3 separate regions of the Homo sapiens genome follow, and regions 1 and 3 are each linked to region 2. Evidence: fine-mapped expression QTL. A gene starts in region 2. Each other region holds a variant in brackets. All regions are shown on one strand. Distances are between the middles of the regions. Region 1 overlaps SLC6A4 (solute carrier family 6 member 4). Region 2 holds the start of CPD (carboxypeptidase D). Region 3 has its middle 21 kb from the start of TMIGD1.

Region 1 (7,340 bases), 150 kb after region 2:
CCCATCTTTCTAGGAGGGACCCAGGGGAAAACAGATGAAACTAGCCTTTCACAGAAACCTGGCATCAATGATCTTCCCTGAGCAGAAAGGCAAATTGCTCTTCCAGGTGGGCACGGGCTCCACCATTGGCCTGCACAGCCCCGTACTTCCAGGTGGAGCTCACGGTGCTGACTTTGGTTCACATTCAGAAATGTTGCCCTGTGAGAAACGTCTCTGCAGGGGCTGCTCCCTTCAGCCTGACTTTTGTTTGCTCTGGGTGACTGGGAAGACGAATGCTCATTTACTGAATGTCAACAACGCGCTTTTAAATGGGAGCAAGTGTTTTCCCAGCCCTGTGTCTAATGAGGTGACAAAATGAGTAGCGATAAAGTGGATGTGAGGCAGTCTGACTGCCTTATTATTATTTCCATCTTTCCTTTGGCCCCTCTGGAACCTGGCAGCAGCTCCCCAGCTTCCATCCCAACCCTGAACCAAGGGGATTTGTTAATGGGATTTAAGCCACAGGCTCTTTAGCACCCAGGACTGGATGGACCTCCATTAATCCCAGAAGCCCCTGGGCTGCAAAAGGAGAGACGCAACCCAGTGATGTGGAGACAGAGAGGCAATGTCCCAGGTCTTCAGGTACTGACGAGTGACAGACAGCAAGGGGAGGGTCTCCTGGGATGCTGATGTCCAGTTCTTCAGGTCATTCTTTGAGGTAGGGAGGGAAGAGGTGACAGGAGGGGTTATGATGAGACCAGGTGGTGATCTGGGCGAGCACTTCTCAGCAAAGCTGGGGACACAGCGAACCCATTGTGTGCTTTGGGAGAGCCCAGAGCCCCAGACTGGGTGGGCAGCTAGCAGGAGGGGGCAAGTACGTGGGCCTTTGCCGTCTTGGGTTTTGGTGTGACCTTTCTGTGTGTATACAGGAAAAAAGAGCATTTCATTTCCTTTGTTACTGAACTGTTGAATAAAATAAGCTGATTTGTCTTCTCTAAGGGAACTTTTTCCTCTAAGGGGCCAAGAATTAGTGAGTGGGAGACCTGGAAGGACCAGGGAGGGGTTCTGCTCCCCGTAGCTCTGTGCATGGCTGGCTCTAGCTCACCCACGGCTCTTGAGGACAAAGCCAGGCCTAGAACTTGAGTCTCTTCTACTTTCGCTCTCTTCTCTTCCCTCCGTAATGATGGGCATGTCTTCTTTAAAAGGCGAACCAAATTAGCTGGCCCTTTCTCTTGTTTCAGAGTTGGGGAGCTGGGCCGAAGGAACAGGGAGGGAAGAGCCTGGAGGGGAGAGGGGAGGTAAGCTGTTCTGGTCAGCAGGGAGCTTTGGCTGACTGGAAGTTTCCCAGCACTGGCTGAGGGCTAGAATTATTTTTTCTTTTGAAAATTTTCAACTGAAAAATCAGAGATATGGTCCATTTTCACCAGTTAACATTTTGCCAATTTGTGTACAAAGTCACTCTAATTATGCATATATCTAATTTTTGCATATGCAGTATATATATGATTTGATATATTATGTGTAATATATAAGATCATTAATATAATTATGCCATTTATGTATCTGTATGTATACATACAGATATATATACACACTATATATACACATATGTACATACAGATACATACAGATATATATATACATATGTACATACAGATACATACAGTGTATATATGTGTCTGTATACACTATATGTATATATAAACTATATGTATCTGTATGTATACCTACAGATATATATAGTGTGTATATATATATCTGTAGGTATACATACAGGTATATATATACTATATATATAGGTTCAACTAATATATATAGTTGAACCTTTGAGAGTTTGCAGACTTCCAGATACTTCTTCCTTAAATACTTCAACACAGATTTCCAACAAACAAGGACCTTCTTGTACGTAACCACAGCGCCATTTTCATGCTGGGGAAACTGGAGATAGATACAATACTATTATCGCACATACAGCTCATATTCCCATTTCCCCCGCTGTCTCAATGATGTCCTTTTTAGCATACAGTGTTACTCTGTGAGACTGTAAACTAGGGGTCAGAAAGTTTTTCTTGCTCTCATCTCAGTGCATATCTGAGAACTAGACTGGTGCAATGATGTGTAAGGATGAACTGATTTTTCATGAGTGTCTCCAACTGTGTGACTCACACTAAAGCACATCTCAGAAATTGTTGACCTAAGAGTATAGGCACCTTTGAGCAGCAACAGCCAAACTCCAAACACCTTGTGGCTGAAGAGGTGGTTGCACGTGTCCTCCGCGCCCCCTCTCCACCTGGATGCACCCGTCTCCTCCAGCAGCCTCACCTCACCTGACCTCACCTCTCCTTCTCCCCTCCATGCCCCACCCAGAGAAATGGGCCAGTTTCCCCTCTCTTTTCTCTTCTCCACTCCCATTTTATTTTGTAGTTCCACTTCAAACCCCCTTTTCCCCACTTCCCTCTTCCGCCTTGCTCAGCAGCCACAGGTGAATCCACCCTTATTTCATAGCACCCTCTCCCTGGGGTTGTTTTTTCCTCTCTTCTCTCTGTTTTGGGTCCCTTTGTGGACCCAATCATGTCTGTTTTACACAAAGGTAATCTTAGTAACATACCTGTATAAAGGAAAAGAAAAGCTGTGTGTGGACATGTTCCCATGTGTTCTATCTCGATTTTTACTTATTGCATAAATTGTATTTATCACAACAGTAAAGGAGTGTTTGGAAGGTGAAGTGACACTCCTAATCCTGATTAATCTAACACATCATCTGTTTTGAGTTTCTCAAGTCTCTTTCCCAGCCTCGTCCACATTTAAATATACTATGGTAACAGAGTAAAAGCAGTTTTGTTTTCTGCAAAAAGTTGTAAGTTGTGAAATTATGTGTCACAAGCAATTCATGTCACCAACTTCTTCTTCTTCCTCTTCCTCTTCCTCCTCCTCCTCCTCCTCCTCCTCCTCTTCCTCTTCCTCTTCCTCTTCCTCCTCTTCTTCTTCTTCTTCTTCTTCTTCTTCTTCTTCTTCTTCTTCTTCTTCTTTCTTCTTTTTCTTCTTCTTCTTTTTTGAGATGGAGTTTCGCTCCTGTTGTCCAGGCTGGAGTGCAATGGCCCGATCTCAGCTCACCACAACCTCTGCCTCCTGGGTTCAAGCTATTCTCCTGCCTCAGCCTCTAAAAGGCTGGTATTACAGGCATGC[G/A]CCACCATGCCTGGCTAATTTTTGTATTTTTAGTAGAGACAGGGTTTCTCCATGTTGATCAGGCTGGTCTCGAACTCTGACCTCAGGTGATCCGCCCACCTTGGCCTCCCAAAGTGCTGGGATTACAGGCATGTGACACTGCGCCCAGCCCATGTCATCAACTTCTAAAGAACTTGGACCAGGCGCAGTGGCTCATGCTGTAATCTCAGCACTTTGGGAGGCTGAGGCAGGAGGATCGCTGGAGTCCAGGAGTTCAAGACCAGCCTGGGCAACATAGCGAGATCTCATCTCTACTGTGTATTTTAAAATTGAACAACAAACAAAACTAAAGACCTCAAAAGTGCCTAAAAGACACCTCCGTGGAATCTGTACAAGGATCTCCCTGCTCCTTGTTCTTCTTTCCTTAAATTTAGTTTTCCTTAAGAACCAAAAAGAAGGTTAAAATAAAGAAAGAACTTCGAATCAGTCTCATTGTCAGCCCCCTCCCCACCCCTAAGCCGTCGTGTAGCACTTAACAACGCTGTGTTCTACAGCTTTCGTTTCAGATGTTTTAGTTTATCACATTTATTTCTGTGGGTTAGGAAATATATTCTAAGTTCCAAACCACCAGCTCACAGATGAACATTTGGAGCCCAGACCGCTGATGGGTGTGCCTGCCAGTACTTGTTTCAAAGTCTGAAAGCCCATCCCGGGCTCTTTAATCCTGGGCATGTCAGTCTCTTCCTGTCCATAGTCCATGAAAATGACTGTTAAGGCAGCCCTCCTCCTCTGCCCACAAGATGCACAGCCAATCTTCCCGATGGGTGAGGCAGGGAGGGACAGGGCCCCTTAGAATAGAACCCTGATCCCATTTGACTTAACTCCAGGGAGGAGAGAAAGAGCAGCACCTCACATGGAGCTCAGATCTGTTGGCACCCTCGCCCAGTCAGGAAACCCAAAACAAGCCCTCCATGCTGAGAGCTGTACAGGGCGTGCTCCAGTCTGCAAGTATTTGGACTCAGGGACGTGTAGCCATAGCCCCTGCTTCCAGGGGCACACGAAGCAAATGTATATAAAAGGATAACTAATGATGCCTGGTAATCAATGGCGAGTGACAAATGAGAATTGAGTAGAAAGAGTGTATCTTGGGCTGGAGTGCTGAGAGGAGGTGGATAGAAGCTTATGCCAGGCCTTGGAGGGTGCAGGATAATTAGAGGAAGGGAAGCTACAGGTGGGGACGCACACGGCACTGTTGGTGCCTACTGGCCCCTGAATAACCTGCGGTATTTGTTAAAAACTGCAGATCCCTGAGTGCCCACGTGGATCTCTTGAATTAGAATCTCTGGGAGAGCAGCCCAGGAGTCTGTTTCCCAGGTGACCCCAAGCACTGATTGAGAGCAGCAAGCATGACCCAGTGAGGCCCGTGCTGGGAGCCACAGATCACTTAAGTCCCAAGTCTTGTGGGCCTCAGTTTCCCTGCTAGGGTATGAAGTAGAAAGGCACAATGGGTTGCGGATGTATGGTGGTGATAGTGACATCAACTCACTGTCATTTATTGATGCTTCCCTGTGCTAGACACTGAGATAAGCATGTGTCATACTTTAATTCCCACGACAGCCTTTAGGAAGTAGCGGTTTTAACAGTCTGCTTTTACACAGGAGGAAATGGAAGCTAAGAGAGGTTAAGTGACCTACTCAAAGTCACACAGCCATTAAGTGGTGGACCAGGGATTCCAGTGCAGACCTGAAACAGAAAGGAGAGCTATGGGTTGTGAACAGAGGAACTAATGAAAGATGACTCTGGAAGGAAGTTAGTCTGGGCTTGGCTGTTTATATTCACTGGAGGAGGGCTGTTCACATCTGCTATGCTAAATTCATTTCTTTCTAGTAAAGTCAAAATAAATAATCCAGTATCCTTTTGGCCAGCCTCTCAGGGGGACCTTGACCCCATCACAAGGGGCATATCCTCTAGATTTTATACTCTGTGTAGAGAGAAGCCCAGGGCTATCCTCTCCCAGGCAGGGAAAGTTCTGGACAGAAATTCTTTTTCTTTCTCATGATAACTGGCCCAAATGGCCCTGAGGATTTTATCCTATTTAATTCCTCTCCAAAAAATTAAACCAGGCTGGGTGCAGTGGATCATGCCTGTAATCCCAGCACTTTGGGAGGCCAAGGCGGGAGGATTGCTCATAGGCCAGGAGTTCAAGACCAACCTGGGCAACATGGTGAAACCCCATCTCTGAAAAAAATACAAAAAATTAGCTGGGTGTGGTGGCACACACCTGTAATCTCAGCTACTCGGGAGCCTGAGGTGGGAGGATTCCTTGAGCCCGGGAGGTTGAGGCTGCAGAGAGCCATGATCATGCCACTGCACTCCAGCCTGGATGACAGTGCAAGACTCTGTCTCTTAAAAAAACAACACACACACACACACAAACACACACACAAAGGAACAGAAAAAACACTAAACTGACTCTGTCATATGAGGAATCCTTTGGATAAGGAGATGGCTGTGATAGTGGAGTTCATTTCTACCCTTTTTGTCCAAAAAAAAAACAAGCAGATTTTCTCTATTCTCTTCATTTCTATCATGAAATCTCTTCAATTCATTGGAAAGGCAAGGCAGGAGTCCCTATGGCTTCCGACCTGTGCCCCCATGACCCTGCACACTTCGGGAACACAGCAGTGCCTTCAGCAGATGCAAACGTGAGCCCCCATTTTACACTGCAGAGCCTGCAAGGAAGGATCAGCCAACAGCCAAGGTCCTGTGAGAGAAACTGTGCAATAGCAGCAAAGGAAGACTTAAAGCCTGGGGGCAACTGTGGTGCAAAACATGTGAGCTATCTAAACACGCCGCGGCGAGCCAGCGGCAGCCTCTGTTCACCACGGGATGTGTGGCAGCACCAGCCTCTCCAGAAGCATCGTGTTTTTCCTAGCAGTTGGTTTTCTTTTTCAGATTTTAGGCTTGGCCTGTGGACTCCATGCAGGCAGGACTGTGCCTGCCTTGTTTCTTTTTTCTTTCTTTTTCTTTTTTTTTTGAGACAGAGTCTCACTCTATCGCCCAGGCTGGAGCGCAGTTTGGCTGACTGTAACCTCTGCCTCCCAGGTTCAGGCGATTCTCATGCATCAGTCTTCTGAGTAGCTGGGATTACAGACATGCACCACCACGCCCGGCTCATTTTTTGTATTTTTATTTTTATTTATTTATTTGAGACAGAGTTTCACTCTTGTCACTCAGGCTGAAGTGTAGTGGCTCAATCTCAGCTCACTGCAACCTCCGCTTCCTGGGTTCAGGCAATTCTCCTGCCTCAGCCTCACAAGTAGCTGAGATTACAGGCACCCGCCACCACACCCAGCTACTTTTTGTATTTTTAGTAGAGACAGGATTTCACCATGCTGGCCACGCTGGTCTCAAACTCCTGACCTCAGGTGATCCGCCCGCCTTGGCTTCCCAAAGTGCTGGGATTACAGGCGTGAGCCAGCTGGCCCGGCTTGCCTGCCTTGTTTCTGAGGAGCCGAGCACATGTGGGCCTACGCACATCTTTGCTGAGGGAGTGCTTCTCCATGAAGAAGGCCAGATTCCATGTTTACTGCTTCGGGCGGCACCAGCGTTCCATAATTCCCATCACTCTTGGGAGATGCCCTGGGAACTTCAGCCTCCCTCTGAATAGAGGATACGAACTGCCAGTTGGCTCTATGACCTGTAACTAATCCTATCTCAACGTTAAACCCACAGTTCATTTGTTTTTGTTTGTTTTGAGAAAGAAAGTTGAGTTTCCTGAGAAATGAACTCACTTTGATCTTGACACATGAAGTCAAAGTTCAACATTTCTGTAGTGTCTTTCTGCTTAGAAGGCACTGATAGGCATCAAGTAGATGGAGCGTCACAGGCATTTCCAAAGGGCTGGGTGTTTATGACCAATCGGGATAATTACATGCTTGTTCAGGTACGGGTTGCTCCTGGCTATAGAGACAAAGTGTGTGGAAAGAGGAATGGAGATTCGATCAGAAGTTTAAATAGAAACAGTCCTTTTTTACTTGGAGTCAGGGATTGGGGGAATGGAGTGCATTAGCTTCAGGAGAGTTAAGAGAAAGTCAACCACTCCCATTGGCTGGTCAACTGCACCCCTCATGTGCAGAGACCTAGGGGGACGAAGCTTCTGTCTGCCAGCTGTCATTCCACAGCAGAGGTGGGGT
Region 2 (7,340 bases):
GGATGAAGTATAAAGTGAAACAAAGAAAATAAACTTCATTTTCCCAAGCTGGAGGAAATTAAGCCTTAAAATTTTACATATTCGAAATAACAACAAAAATCTAATTCGAATATAGCTGGGTGAATAGGATATCAAGAAATTACTCAAATGGTTTACCTCACAAAATACACTGAAAAAGGTAGTTTTCCCATACAGACTAATGTTTGAGTATTTAAAAATATCCCATCCATAAAGTTGACACTATATTTAGGCATCAATATCAAATTGTGTGTGTGCTTGTGTTTTTAATTTTATTCACATATCAGTGTCCTTTGTTATTGGTTAATAGCACAGAGTACGCATTTTGAGTGAATTCTTGAAGACTGAGTTAGGATGGATGTACTCTTTACCATATATGATCACCTACTTTCCCTTTTGATTAATGAGAGTTACATATTTGAAGAACAGATATGATTAGGGTAGTCCACAGCCACAGACCAAAATGACTCTGTATAGCCTCAAGGCGACTTGCACCAAGAAAAAGCTTATTTTCATATTTGGTCACAGCACAACTAATACTGAAAAGAAAAATCCAGGCACAGAATTTACATCCCTGCAAGGATCACAGCATTTTAAAGGTGCAAGGACAGAGCATTTTAAACATTTAAGCAATGCAAACGGTGCATTTGTTGTATCATCTCCAAAAAGCCCTGGCCATCACAGCTCTGTCAATAAGTGTATGTCAAAGTCATATTTCTTACGCAGATGTTCAGAGGTGATGACACGATCGTATTTAAAAGAAAAAAAAATCCTCCCAGAAAGTCTATGTGAAATTATATATCTACAAGAGAGCTTATCAAGAGGAGTAAAGTAAAAGATAGAAGACGAAAAGACTCAGGAACTGTCCTAACACTCAAGAATTTTCTAGATCTTCTATATATGACTGAAATCTTGTAGAAGAAATGATTCCAAGTCCCGCAGGGAAACTTCTTTATCTTAGCAGTCCCTCAGAAATCTTCTTTTAATCCAGATGGAATGATCAGTTATTGCTTCAAAAGCCTTATGAAGATACAAAAATGGGGAAAAGCTGATGCTAGAAAAGGGGAAGAGATGCCTGCTCACTTCAGACACTATGCCATCTGGAGTGAGTTCCCTCTTATTTTATTCCTCTCCTTTTTGCTGAAAATCCTGCCCATCTCTGGAGATAGCTCAAGCTCTACCTCTTCCACAGAGATGGTCCGTGTTATTGCAGCCCACACACATCTTGCCAGTGGGAACAATTCCTGTAAAGTTTAACTGGGTACACCAACATACCTCATAAATATTTATAACATTCTCTTGTTTTATACTAATTTCTTGAGGTCCTCCTTCTTCTACTTTGTAATTTTTTAAACCTCATGCAATGCTTAATAACACTTAAAGTGTGTATTAGAAGTGTGACCATTAGCCATTCTGCCCAGGCTAATAAGGTGCACAAATGACATCACAAACCCTTCAGAGTCTAAAATGAAGCGGCTCACAGATCTGTGCAAGTTCTCCAGCTAAGTCCATATCTTCTTAAGCTGAGTCAGAGGTAAAAATTGGAGAAAAATCAGCTTCTGTCAAATAGGCAAGGGGAAGATCCTGGGAATATCATCTGCCATTTTTGGGCTCCAGTGTCCCTCCGTGGCTAAGAGGACTATCGGGAATCAGATTGCCTAATTCTAAGTCCCAGCCACACTCCTATGTAAATCAGTTAACCAATCTGACCCTCAATTTCCCCGTATGCAAAACTGATGGTGTCTATGACATCAGGTTGTGGCCAAAATAAAGTGAGATACTGCAGTCACAGAAAAAATTAGCACAGCGCCTATAACATTAGGCACTTTTGATATAAGATAACAACATTGACAGCTTATCTATAAAATGTGTGAGCTGACCTAGGTTATCCTTAAGATCTCTTCTCGCTCATATTCTATGCCCCTGTAAGAATAGGGACCAGAAATGTCAGAAAGGAGTGTCCCCTCCAGCCATCCCTTGAACAAATGACAGCCTCTAGGAGGCAATTCTTTGATGATTAGCAGGACGGGAGGCTACGCGGCCTGGGCCCTGTCCCCGTTACAGGGTGTCTCCCTTCACCTTCACCACCGCCACCCCTTATGCCAGCATTGTCTGAGCGCCTACTGGGTGCCGGAACCAGCCTCGGCCCTTGGAGGCTCACACGGACGGGGAGGGGGCAGGCAACACTCACTTGTTCCTGCGGATCCACTCGATGAGGGCGCGCACCTCGGGCACCTCGTCCAGGGCGGGGGGTTCGCCGGTGCTAAACTGGTCGGGAAAGCTTCGGTTGAGGTCGCGGCCGCGACTATTGTCGCGGCCGCTGGCCCCGGACGGGCCGCCGTCGCCGAAGCCACAGTCGCCCTCGCGGGCACGCTCGAAGCCATCGGGGTTGAGGCTGGGCAGCAGGTACACGTCGGTGGTGTTGAGCAGGCGGACCAGGCGCGGGTCCCCGCGGCGGTAGCCGGCCGCCAGCTCGCGGGCCAAGTAGATCAACACCTGGCGCGACACGGTCTCGTCGCCATGCATGTTGCCCACCAGCTTCACCTGGGGCCGGCCGGGCAGCAGCGGCCCCGCAGCGTCGGGCCCGGCAGCGTCAGGCCCCGCGTCGCCCTCAGGGATTAGCGACCCCAGGCCGGCGGTGAGGCGAAGCACCCACAGCGGCCGGCCTTCCACCGAGCGGCCGATGCTAAAGAGGCGGGCCAGGCCGGGGAGGCCCGCGGCCGCCGCCTCCCTCAGCGCCGACTCCAACTCCTCTTCGTGGTAGTAGCGGTCGAACTGGCCCTCGGCCGCCTCGGCGCCCGCGCTCGTAGTTGTGGTAGTCGCCTCCGCCTTCTTGATGTGAGCCGCCCGGGCCGAGCTCCCCAGCAGCAGCAGGCACATGAGCAACAGGAGCCGCCCTAGCCGCCAAGGCGGCCGCTCGTCCCGGCCGCTCGCCATCTTCCAGCAGCGCCGCTAACCCCGGCTCCGCTCCCGCGGCTCAGCGCTCCGGGCGGCGGGGGCCCGCCGGATCCCCTCCTCGCCTAGCAACCCCATCCCGCCCTCTGGCCGCAGCCAATCGCGGACGGGCCTGGTGGAGCGTCACCACCAGGGGGCGGGGCTTCCCTTAAAGCAGCCGATTCCCTCTGGGCGGGCCTGCCCTCCTCCCGTCCGGGACGAGTTTGGTCACTCTCTTCCTTCGCCAAGGTTCTTCTTCTCTTCTCCTCCTCCTTGTTTCGTCTTCTGCGTGTGCTCCGCTTCTCGCTTAGTCTCTTCTTTATGGCTTCTCCCCTAAATTATCACCCATTTTTCTCTGAGAACTCCTGCTAGTTCTCTTCCCATCTTTGTTGCTGCCTTTCTCAGCTGCGCTTTAATGCTTAGAACCGAGAATGGAAAGAATCAAAAGGTTCGAAAGAATCATAAGACTAGAAAAAATCAATAGGTTCGAAAGAATCTTCGTTCGGACACTCAAAGCCTTAGCCCAGTCTCCTAGGCGCCTTGTCTCCGCATCCACCCCGCCTCCGCTGGAGCCCCGCTGTCCGCGTGCGGTTGCACGGGACGCCTCGTGGGGAGGAAGGCTCGCACCTCACTAGGCGGTGCATTCATTTTTAGAGTTGCTTTCTGGAAAGGTGTCTCTTTTATGCCTAGCGGAAATGTGCTACGTAGTAGGCTCCCTTTGTGTTAATGTTGTCTATTTCTTAGGCGTCACCCCACGTTGTTTTACTGCAAATAGGTCCCTGTGTGTGCTGGCCTCGACCCTCATTAGGCAGATTTCATTTCACAGCTCACCGGCCCACTTCTCCCACCTCATCGGAGCAAGTTGTATATTTAACTGTGCCCTGGAATGACATATTTTAAAACAGCAGGTTTGACATTTCTGGAAACACTTGCTTGGCATTCCTGAACTCCTCAGTGTCAGCCAAAGATGGCAATTACAGCGTTTCATCAAGTCTAGAGAAGAGGTCTTTTAAATCACCTTTTATAGGCTTTAGTTTCTTTAGCTTGAAGAAACCCAAAACTATCCCTTAATCGAATGCGAAATTCTACCCATCTAACAACATAATCGCAATAACCGGCATTACCTTCTTTCAGAGCCAGCTATTTCAGGGCCCCTTCCCTGAACTATGACTGAACCCTACTTTAATAGAGTTCATTCATTCGTCAAGTATTTATTGAGCAACTTTTATGTCAAAGCTAGATGCTGGGAAACAATTCATTCTTCTGCCCAGTCAAGAGATTCAGTGTAGTTTGTGATAAATGCTACAACAGAGGGGGTACAGGTGAGGGAAATATCTGAACTTGAGGAGGAGGAAAGGAGGAGAGAAACCATGGAGGATGGGAAGGATCCCAGGCAGGAGGAGAAGCAAGCAAAGAAAGCCGCAGGATTTGAGAACAAATGCCTTGTGTTCTGGGAATTGCATGCAGGGTCAGGATTACTGGTGTGAAGGGGCTCACAGGCCAGTCTTCAGGGAGCACATTTGATCTGGAAGGCCATGGAGAACCACAGACGGGTTTTAAGCTAGTTTAGAAAAATTCCTCTGACAGTAACACGGAAAATTGAATGGGAGGCCTAAGACTTGAGGCTGAGAGACCTGGAAGGAAGCTGCAATCCAGGAAGACATGATGAGACTCTGAATGAGGGCAGTGCCAGTGGAGGTGGAAAGAAGGAAATGGATCTGAAAGACCTTCGGAAAGGAAAGTGGACAGGATCTGGAGACAAAGAGGATTGTAGGCTGACTTCAAGTTACAGCCTAAGCAACTTGCAGGTATTCACTGAGGTACAGGCCAGGAGAAAGCACAGGTTTAGGTGAAGATGATTAATTTAGTATTCTGCCATCAGAGCGAGCACCGTCACTCCGGTCCTGTGAATGGCTCTTCTCCATGCCCCATTTGATCTAGTCTACATTATGCACAGCAGCTGCAACTCATCAGAAACAAAGCCACAACTCTGTACAGAGAGACCGCCCACCACCTCCCGGGAGTGCTCAACTATTACACCATGCACTTTTACAGTAATCCAAGTCAAAGAAGCCCCAGAGGACATGTTAACTTCTAATCAAATATTTCCTTTTCTACCACGTTCACTCTCCTTTGAAACCTCTTCCAGCCCCTTCACTCCTGCAGCCTCGCCTAGAGAGGCAGCCTGAAATGTAAATAAACAAGCATGAGGGTGGTGAAATAATATGGGAATGTAACTTGAGCCGGTGTCCTCTCAGAAATCCCCAGGCCTTCCGTGGGCCTCTTTCAGGTCTGCAGCCTTCTTCCTTAGCAGGTACACAGTTGCTTATGGTTATAAGTGAAACCCAAAGCTCTGGACCTCAGTCACTTTTGTGTTTACCTACAGGTTTGTGTTTACCTACAGCTGAATACCTCCAATTGTGTCTGAGAAGTCTTGAACCTTATGACAGGTGTTTCTTTCCTCTTTCCCCAAGGAAAAGGTGTGGCCTTACAAATGGAAGGGACTTGGGAAAGGCTTGAAGGTAAAAAGGCTTCCTGTTCACAGAAGCAGAGTGGCAATGACTTGGATTTTTTTTTTTAATTTTTGTATTTGATACATGATAATTGTACATATTTATGGGATACATTTGATATTTTGATACATGCATACAATATATTATGATCAAACCAGGACATTCTGGATAGCCATCACCTCATTTAGCTCAAAGAGATTTGAAATGTTTCTAGCACCAAGAAATGACAAAGAATTGACGTGGATTTTTTAAAAACAGGGCAAAAGCTTTTAGATGACCAGCCTGATTCAAGAACCATTTTCTTCACAAGATTCGTAGGTAATTAAAGCATAGCATAGACCGGGAACTTGTAAGTGTCTCATTGTCCAGCACAAACACCTGCAGATTTACAAATTCAATTTGACAAATGTTTGTGGAGCACCCAATCTGGCGAAAGGTCTGTTGTGCCAGGTACAGGAGGATTGGAAAATGAATGAAGGGGATCTCTCCCCTCCCAGAGGACAGAATCTAGGAAGGGACACAGAACATAGACACAACACAGGACTGGATGTGTCTGCTGGACAAGAGTTACATAACAGGCACTGTGCAAAACCCTTTACATTGGTTGACTCATTTCATCTTCACAACAGTCCTATGAGGCTGGTGCTATTATCATTCCCATTTCAAAGATAAAGAGAGGAGACATGAGGTCACACAGCTGGCAAGCCACAGATCCAAGACTCAAACCTGGGGAGTGTGACTTCAGAGTCTGTGTGCTTAAATTCTGTAATAAAACTGTTTCTATATAGTAAGCTTAAAAAAACAAAAAACAAAAACCTGTTTTTGGAACACACAAAAGCCATTATAATGAAGAGTCACCTCCCTCGGTGGCTCAAGCCTGTAATCCCAGCACTTTGGGAGGCCGAGGCGGGCAGGTCACCTGAGGTCAGGAGTTCAAGACCAGCCCGGTCAACATGGTGAAACCCCGTCTCTACTAAAAATACAAAATAAATAAATAAAAGAAATTAAAAATAAAAATAATGAAGAGTCAGAGAAAACGTCACCAATACTGCTTGATCATGCTCTTCAACAGCAGAACCAAGTTCAAATCCTGGATCAGTCCCTTTTCAGCCATTGTAACCAGGGCAAGTTACTTCATTTCTCTGAAAATTAAAAGAAATAATACATACATAACATTTAATATAATACTTGGCATATAACAAGCGTTCAGAAATCACCGTTATTTCTATTGTTTTTAATAATAGAAATTCTCAAATGGTAAAAATGGAGAAAAGAGCACTCCAGGCAGAGAGACCAGCAAGGATAGATGCACAGAGAGGGATTTCGTGACTGGTGGCTGGAATACAAGATGTGTTAGGAAGAGCAGCAGAAGCCATGCCTGCAAAGACTAGAAGTAGATGAAGGCTTTGAATACCACACTAATGGGGTTTTGCTTTATTCCAAAGCAAATGGAAAACTTACAGAGCTGTTTGTGAGGAGGAATGGTGTGGATCGCACCTGTGTTTTAGCAAGAAAATTCCAGGAACCATTTGGGCAAGGCTAAGGGATAGCTGCTATCCAGGCAAGAGCTAATTCTGGCAAGTTCAGTGAGGATAAAAAGAAGATAAATTAGAGATGTTTAGGTTGTTGGATTGACAAGATTTAGCAACTTTATGGGTAAAAGGGAAGAAGAAGTAAAAGATGACTTCATGAGCTAGTGAGGGTGACCAGGTAGGTGGCTTTGCCATTATCCAAGACAAAGAAGGCAGGAGAAAAGATGCTAAATGGAGGGGCTTGGAGTGTGTGGGAAAAGAGATTAGGTGTTGATTTTGGGAACTTTTAGGTTTGAGATGCCTGTATGAAATCCAGCGGCAGGTATGTCTAGATAATGGGAAC
Region 3 (7,340 bases), 23 kb after region 2:
AAGTTTAATTGAAATTCAGCCAATAAATCTACTGATGTCCAAGAGTTATTTTTGCAAGCTATTGAAAAGTATTGTAAATCTATGTCTGGAATATTAATAGATTAAAAGACTCTTTCCAAGTTTTTTGTAAAGCATGCAGGTATAAATGTTTCATAGGTAATGATAAAGTTATATCATTTTCAGGAATAAAAAAACAATGTCGCAATTGTGAATGGGAGCTCACTCATGATTTAGCTCTCTGTTTGTCTCTTATTGGTGTATAGGAATGCTTGTGATTTTTGCTGAAGTTGCTTATCAGCTTAAGGAGATTTTGAGCTGAGACAACAGGGTTTTCTAAATATACAATCATGTCGTCTGCAAACACAGACAATTTGACTTCCAGACATCCATTTTCAAAATGCTTTCTTAATTAAAAAAAGAGTTTCTTTGCAAGAGCAGTTACTTTTCTATTCTTTTTCTTTGCTTTTTGAGACAAACTCTCTCTGTCACCCAGGCTGGAGTGCAGTAGCCCAATCATACCTGGAGCTGTGTGTGATCATAGCTCGGCTGCTGCACTCAAACTGTAACCTCAAACTCCTGGGCTCAAGTGATCCTCCTGCCTCAGCTTCCTAAGTAGCTGGGACTACAGGCACATACCACCAGGCCCAGCTAATCTTTAATTTTTTTGTAGAGATGAGGTCTTACTATGTTGCCGGGGCTGGTCTGAAACTCCTGGACTCAAACGATCCTCCTGCCTTGGCCCCCCAAAACAGTGACTTTTCATTCACTGTTAAACACCATTTTTTTTCTTAAAGATATTAATTAAATGTGCTTATTATTGTAATTGTTTTATTATTAATTAGTTGATTGATTATTGTAATTTCTCCTGGTAGCCCAGTTTTTAAATTCATTTGTCATCACAGAAAAGGTCAGAAATTTTTGAACACTAGTCTTTTTGTAAGAGAAAAATTGTGCAGTTCACAGTTCATCTTTTTAAATTGACAATTCTTTTAAGTCCTTTACCCCTCAATGGCCCATAATCCTATTTGATACAATTGATTTTGATGGTCACTCTTCAACTCACTTTACAGTATTATAAGGACTCTGTGATTTATTAACACTGGGCTCTAACCAAGTGAGATAACCTGCCACCCAAGATTCTACTATCTAAAGTTTAAAGGTCTTGTGTTTTTTGTTTATTTTATTTATAAAAATAGCCTAATGACACCCTACAGCACACAAATTCCTCTTGGGAGATCTCTCTTATGATTTATGACACTTGACTCATGTTCAGACAAATGTGGCTTCCAGCATCAGTTGATATATAGGGCATCAGTAAAGTTTAATTCTTTTAAAGAAAAATAAATATAAATACTAATATTTTTTCTGCGGCTCAGGGCAGCCAGCTCCTAATGAATTCCAGGAATTAGCACAAACCTCACTTTGGAGACCACTGTTACAAAGCATCGCTCTGATCCTTTTACTCTTTTGCCAGCAAACCATCGTTATCTATCCATTGGCCATTTATCCATTGATAAAGCCCATGCTCTCTTTTTCTCAATAACATGGTTGCCCCCATCCCCCTGCTGCCTTCTCAGGGGCACAGGTGAGCCCTTTGTAACAGCTACACTTCAGGCTTGGAGACTGGCCCCACTTCTGAACTTTGAGGGACCAACATTGGCAGCTCACTGTTGAACCTGAGCCAGTCAATCTTTCTGCTGTGTGCAGTTTGATCTTAGCATCTTAATTCCCAGTTATGGGTTTCCTGCCTTGTACCCTCATTCTCCAGTGCTTGGGTTTGAGTACCAGACTGAATAATAATAATAATAATAATAATAATAATAATAATAATAGCAAAGACTAGAGAGCTTACTTGCCTACCGTTGTTCTGAATGCTTTACGTATATCAATTTATTGAATCCTCATAACTCTACAAAATAATACTATTAATATCCCCATTTTACAGAAGATGAAACTGAGACACAGAGGTTACATAACTTCACCAAAGTCACTAACGATAAGTGGCGGAGATGAGTGGGTTTGACTCTAGGCAGCCTAACTTTAGAGCCTGTGACACCTGGCTGCTCTGGCCTGCCTCATGTCAGCTTGCCACGGCTGATTATGGTAGGGCTGGAGAGGCATTTCTAAGCCTCTCAGCCAACAGTATTTCTAGCTTTTGGCCAAAAGCATGGCCAAGTTCAATATGATGCAGTGCCGTTTTGGGGTGGATCAGATACTCAAGGTAAAAAACACTGGCACTGGTTGGGAGCTGACATATGAAAGATGACTGGGAGCTGTAGGTGGTTCAAAAGTTAGAGTGAAAAAGAGACACTGGGACTGATTCCAAGGAAAAGGACCTGGTAGCCAAGAAGTAGACTGACAGAGAATATGAACACTAGCCACTAATTATTAATGCTTATTATGTCCCAAACACTGTCCTATTTGCCTTATGTTCATTGTCCCTTTCACTCTCACAATGACCCTGTGAAAGTGTGTCACCATTTTCTAGACAAAGAAACTGAAGCCAGGCATGGGCTCATGCCTGTAATCCCGGCACTTTGGGAGGCAGAGGCAGGTGGATCACTTGAGGTCAGGAGTGCGAGACCAGCCTGGCCAACATGGTGAAACCTTGTCTCTACTAAAAATACAAAAATTAGCTGGGCCTGGTGGCAGGTGCCTGTAATCCCAGCTACTCGGGAGGCTGAGGCAGGAGAATCACTTCAGCCCGGGAGGTAGAGGTTGCAGTGAGCCGAGATCACGCCACTGCACTCCAATCTGGGTGACACAGCAAGACTCTATCTAAAAAAAAAAAAGAAAGAAAAAGAAAAAGAAAAAAAAAGAAAAGAAAAAGAAAAAAGAAAGAAAGAAAAAGAAAAAGAAACTGAAGCTCAGAAAATCTAACTAATTTTCCTAAGCTCACATAATCAAATCAAGTGGTTCCGCTAGGATCTGAATTATGTTTGGTGTGGAAAGGTGCTACAGTCATCAGCCTCTATAGGATTTCCATTAGTTTGTCCAAAGCCACTGATATGGTTTGGCTGTGCCCCCCACCCAAATCTCAATTTGAATTGTATCTCCCAGAATTCACATGTGTTGGGGGAGGGGCCCAGTGGGAGGTAATTGAATCATGGGGGCCAGTCTTTCCCGTGATGTTCTTGAAATAGTGAATAAGTCTCACAAGATCTGATGGGTTTATCAGGGGTTTCTGCTTTTGCTTCCTTCTCATTTTCTCTTGCTGCCACCATGTAAGAAGTGCCTTTTGCCTCCCATCATAATTCTGCAGCCTCCCCAGCTATGTGGAACTGTAAGTCCAATTAAATCTCTTTTTCTTCCCAGTATCGAGTATGTCTTTATCAGCAGCATGAAAACATACTAGTATAGCCACCCTAAATAAATATGCAATTTAAGGAAAAGCAGTGTTGTAACTCATAAACACAACTTCAGCACAAGACCTCCTTCCAACTACACTGCTGCATACTTGAACTGCCCTAGGCTTATTACAAAGGTGGGCTCTTAATGATGGATCTCTATACCTCCTCATCACGAGAAGATCAAAGGGTAAGAAAGACAAGGGTGAAAATACATCTGCAGTCTTCTTCCTCCAACTCCAATTGAGAGCAAGAGACACAAAGAATCAGGAATTGGTTATGATGCCTAGTGGTGGCAGTGGTGGCAGAAACATCTGTTTCTAGGGGCAACTTGAGTTTCTGCAATGGGGCAGTATTCAGTGTTTTGAGGCCCCCATTCCAAGCTGTGGCATTTAGTGGTTCATCAGTAATGGTCTTCCTGGATGGGTTTATGGCAATGTTTAGCCTGTGGTCTTAGTTGCTACTGGGACCTTCTTGTTCCAATCCTTCACTGAACCTGTTTCTTTCTCCTCCTCTACAATATGTCATCAGTAAACTTCCTTCATGCTTAAATAAGCTAGAGTTAGTTTCTGTTACTTCCAACTAAAACCTCTGACTGGACCATGATTAAATTTTCATTTTCAATATTACTATCACAGTGCATCATATTTCCAATTTTTAAAAAAAGGACTAGTAGCTCAAAAGTAGTTCATTAAAATATTCATATAACCCACAGTTAATATAATGCTTAATAGTGAAAGATTGAAAGCTCCCTTAAAATCA[G/T]GAACAAACCAAGAATGTTCACTTTCCTTTTTTTTTTCCTTTGGTTTGTTTGTTTATTTGAGATGGAGTCTTGCTCTGTCACCCAGGCTGGAGTGCAGTGGTGCAATCTCAGCTCACTGCAACCACCACCTCCCAGGTTCAAGCGATTCTCCTGCCTCAGCCTCCTGAGTAGCTGGGACTATAGGCGCACGCCACCATGCTCGGCTAATTTTTGTATTTTTAGTAGAGACAGGGTTTTACCATGTTGCCCAGGATGGTCTCGATCTCCTGACCTTGTGATCCACCTGCCTTAGCCTCCCAAAGTGCTGGGGTTACAGGTGTGAGCCACCGTGCCTGGCCAGAATGTTCACTTTCTATTAAACATTGTGCTGGATATTCCAGTCAGGTCAATTAGATAAGAAAAAAAAAAAAGACATCCAGATAGGAAAGAGAGAAATAAGACTATCTCTATTTGTAGATGACATGATTTACTTTTACGTATAGAAAACCTTAAGGAATCCATTATAAACCTATTAAAACTAATAAACAAGTTCAGTAAGGTTGCCAGATACAAAAGCAACATGCAAAAATTAATTTTATTTATATACACTAGCAAACAACAATCCAAAGATGAAATTAAGAAAACAATTTCATTTATAATGGCATCAAAAAGAATAAATAAACTACTTAGGAATCAGTTTAACCAAAGAAGTGCAAGACTTGTACACTGAAAACTACAAAACACTATTGAAAGAAATTAAAGAAAACCTAGACATCCCATGTTCATGGATCAGAAGACTTGATATTGTAAGATGCCAATACTTCAAACTAATCTATATATTTAATGCAATTCCTATCAAAATACTAGCATCTTTTCTTGTGGAAGTTGATATACTAATCCTAATATCCATATGGAAATGCAAGAGACTCAGAAAAGCCAAAAACAACCTTGAAAAAGAAGAACAAAGTTGAAGGATTCATGTTTCCTGATTTCAAAACCTAGTATAAAGTTACAGTAATCAAGAGGGTGCTAATAGCATAGGGATAGACATATAGATCAATGGAATGGAATTGAACATTCAGAAATAAACCCTACTATTTTTGGTCAATTGATTTTCAGCAAGGGTGCCAAGACCATTCAATGGGGGAAAGAATAGCCTTTTTAACAAATGGTGCTGGGTCAACTGGATATCCACAAGCAAAAAAATGGATATGGACTCCTATCTCACACCACAGGCAAAAATTAACTTAAAATAAATTCTGGGTCAAGCATGGTGGCTCACACCTGTAATCCCAGCACTTTAGTGGGCCCAGGCAGGTGGATCACCGGAAGCCAGGAGTTCGCGACCAGCCTGGCCAACATAGTGAAACCCCGTCTCTACTAAAAATACAAAAATTAGCTGGGCATGATGGCAGGAGCCTGTAATCCCAGCTACTCAGGAGGATGAGGCAGGAGAATCACTTGAACCCAGGAGGCAGAGGTTGCAGTGAGCTGAGATCACACCATTGCACTCCAGCCTGGGCCACAGGAGTGAGACTTCGTCGCAAAAAATAAATAAATAAAATAAAATAAAATAAATAAATAAATCTGGTCCTAAATATAAGAGTTAAAACTATAAAATTCTTAGAAGAAAATATAACCTTGGATTAGGCAATGGTATTTTAGATATGACACCAGAAGTATACATGACAAAAGGAAAAATAACTGTTAAGCTTTTTTACAATTAAAAATTGTGCTACAGGCCAGACGTGGTGGCTCACGCCTGTAATCTCAGCACTTTGGGAGGCTGAGATGGGCGGATTGCCTAAGGTCAGGAGTTCAAGACCAGCCTGGCCAACATGGTGAAACCACGTCTCTACTAAAAAAAAAAAAAAAAAAACACACACACACACAAAAATTAGCCGGGCATGGTGGTGGGCACCTGTAATCCCAGCTATTCGGGAGGCTGAGGCAGGAGAATGGTTTGAGCCCGGGAGGTGGAGGTTGCAGTGAGCCAAGATTGTGCCACTGCACTTCAGCCTGAGTGACTGAGCAGGACTCTGTCTCAAAAAAAAAAAAAAAAAAAAAAATTGTGCTGTGAAGCCTCTATCAGGCTGGGCATGGTAGGTAGTTCATGCCTGTAATCCCAGCACTTTGGGAGGGCCAGGCTAGAGGATTCCTTGAGCCCAAGAGTTCCAGAACAGCCTGAGCAACATATGGGGACCCCCATCTCAACCAAAACAAATTAACAGTTAGCTGGGTATGGTGGTGCATGTCTGTGATCTCAGCTACTGGGGGTTGGGGGCTGGGTGGTGCTGTCTGAGGTGGGAGGGTCATTTGAACCCAGGAGGTCACGGCTGCAGTGAGTCATAATCACACCACTACACTCCAGCCTGGGTGACAGAGCATGACCTGTTTCAAAGGACACTATCATGAAAGTGAAAAGAAAAGACAACCCACAAAATGAGAGAAAACATTTGCAAATCATATATCTATTAAGGGATTTGTATTTAAAATATATAAAGAGTCTTACAACTCAACAATTAAAAAAAAAACTTAAAATGGTCAAAAGATTTGAATGGACATTTTTCCAAAGAAGGTATACAAGTGGCCAAGCAGCACATGAAAAGATGTTCAATGTTATTACATATTAGGGAAATGTAAATGAAAACCTCAACGAGATTGCTAAAGGGTATGACGTTTCTCTTGTGGATGATGAAAATGTTCTAAAATTGATTGCAATGATGTTGCACAACTGTGAATGTAGTAAAAACCATTTAATTGTATACTTTAAATGGGTAAATTATATCTCAGTATGTAGGTAAATTATATCTCAATAAAGCTGTACCAAAAAAAAAAAAAAAAAAAAACCCTCACAGTGAGATGACACTTTATACTTACAAGGATGGCTAAAATAGAAAAGAGACAATAACAAGTGTTGATGAAAATGTGGACAAATTGTAACCCTTGTACATTGCTGGTGGAATTGTTAATGGTACAGTCACTATGGAAAACAAGTTAGGTGTTCTTCAAAATGTTAAACATAGAGTTACTATATGACCCAGCAATTGCACTCATAGATATATAGCCAAGAGAAATGAAAACACATGTCCACAAAAAAACTTGTACATGAATGTTCATAGTAGCATTATTCAAAATAGCCAAAACTGGAAGCAATACAAACATCCAGGATGCACAAATTAACAAAAATGTGTTATATCCCTACACTGAACAATACTAGGCCGTAAAAAGGAAGGAAGTCACATACTGCA

Evidence for each region. PIP is the estimated chance that this variant, and not a neighbour inherited with it, causes the effect.
Region 1: its variant is fine-mapped to the expression of CPD in whole blood (TOPMed, PIP above 0.99).
Region 3: its variant is fine-mapped to the expression of CPD in whole blood (INTERVAL, PIP above 0.99).

The regions. Positions count from the first base shown.
Region 1 is chr17:30,225,714-30,233,053 of GRCh38, reverse strand. The region is part of intron 1 of SLC6A4 (solute carrier family 6 member 4); the gene reads left to right. Among named protein-coding and RNA genes, the nearest start is that of SLC6A4, 6.3 kb to the left of the region's middle. RefSeq lists a silencer at 6,957-7,157. The variant G/A (reference allele first, on the strand shown) is at 3,166.
Region 2 is chr17:30,374,596-30,381,935 of GRCh38, reverse strand. CPD (carboxypeptidase D) reads right to left here and starts at 3,009. Exons shown (of 21, transcript NM_001304.5): 1 at 2,210-3,009. The coding sequence starts at 2,955. RefSeq lists silencers at 2,534-2,663, 2,964-3,203 and enhancers at 2,181-3,108, 3,254-3,423, 4,694-4,743, 4,994-5,283.
Region 3 is chr17:30,351,503-30,358,842 of GRCh38, reverse strand. No RefSeq gene overlaps it. Among named protein-coding and RNA genes, the nearest start is that of TMIGD1, 21 kb to the right of the region's middle. The variant G/T (reference allele first, on the strand shown) is at 4,110.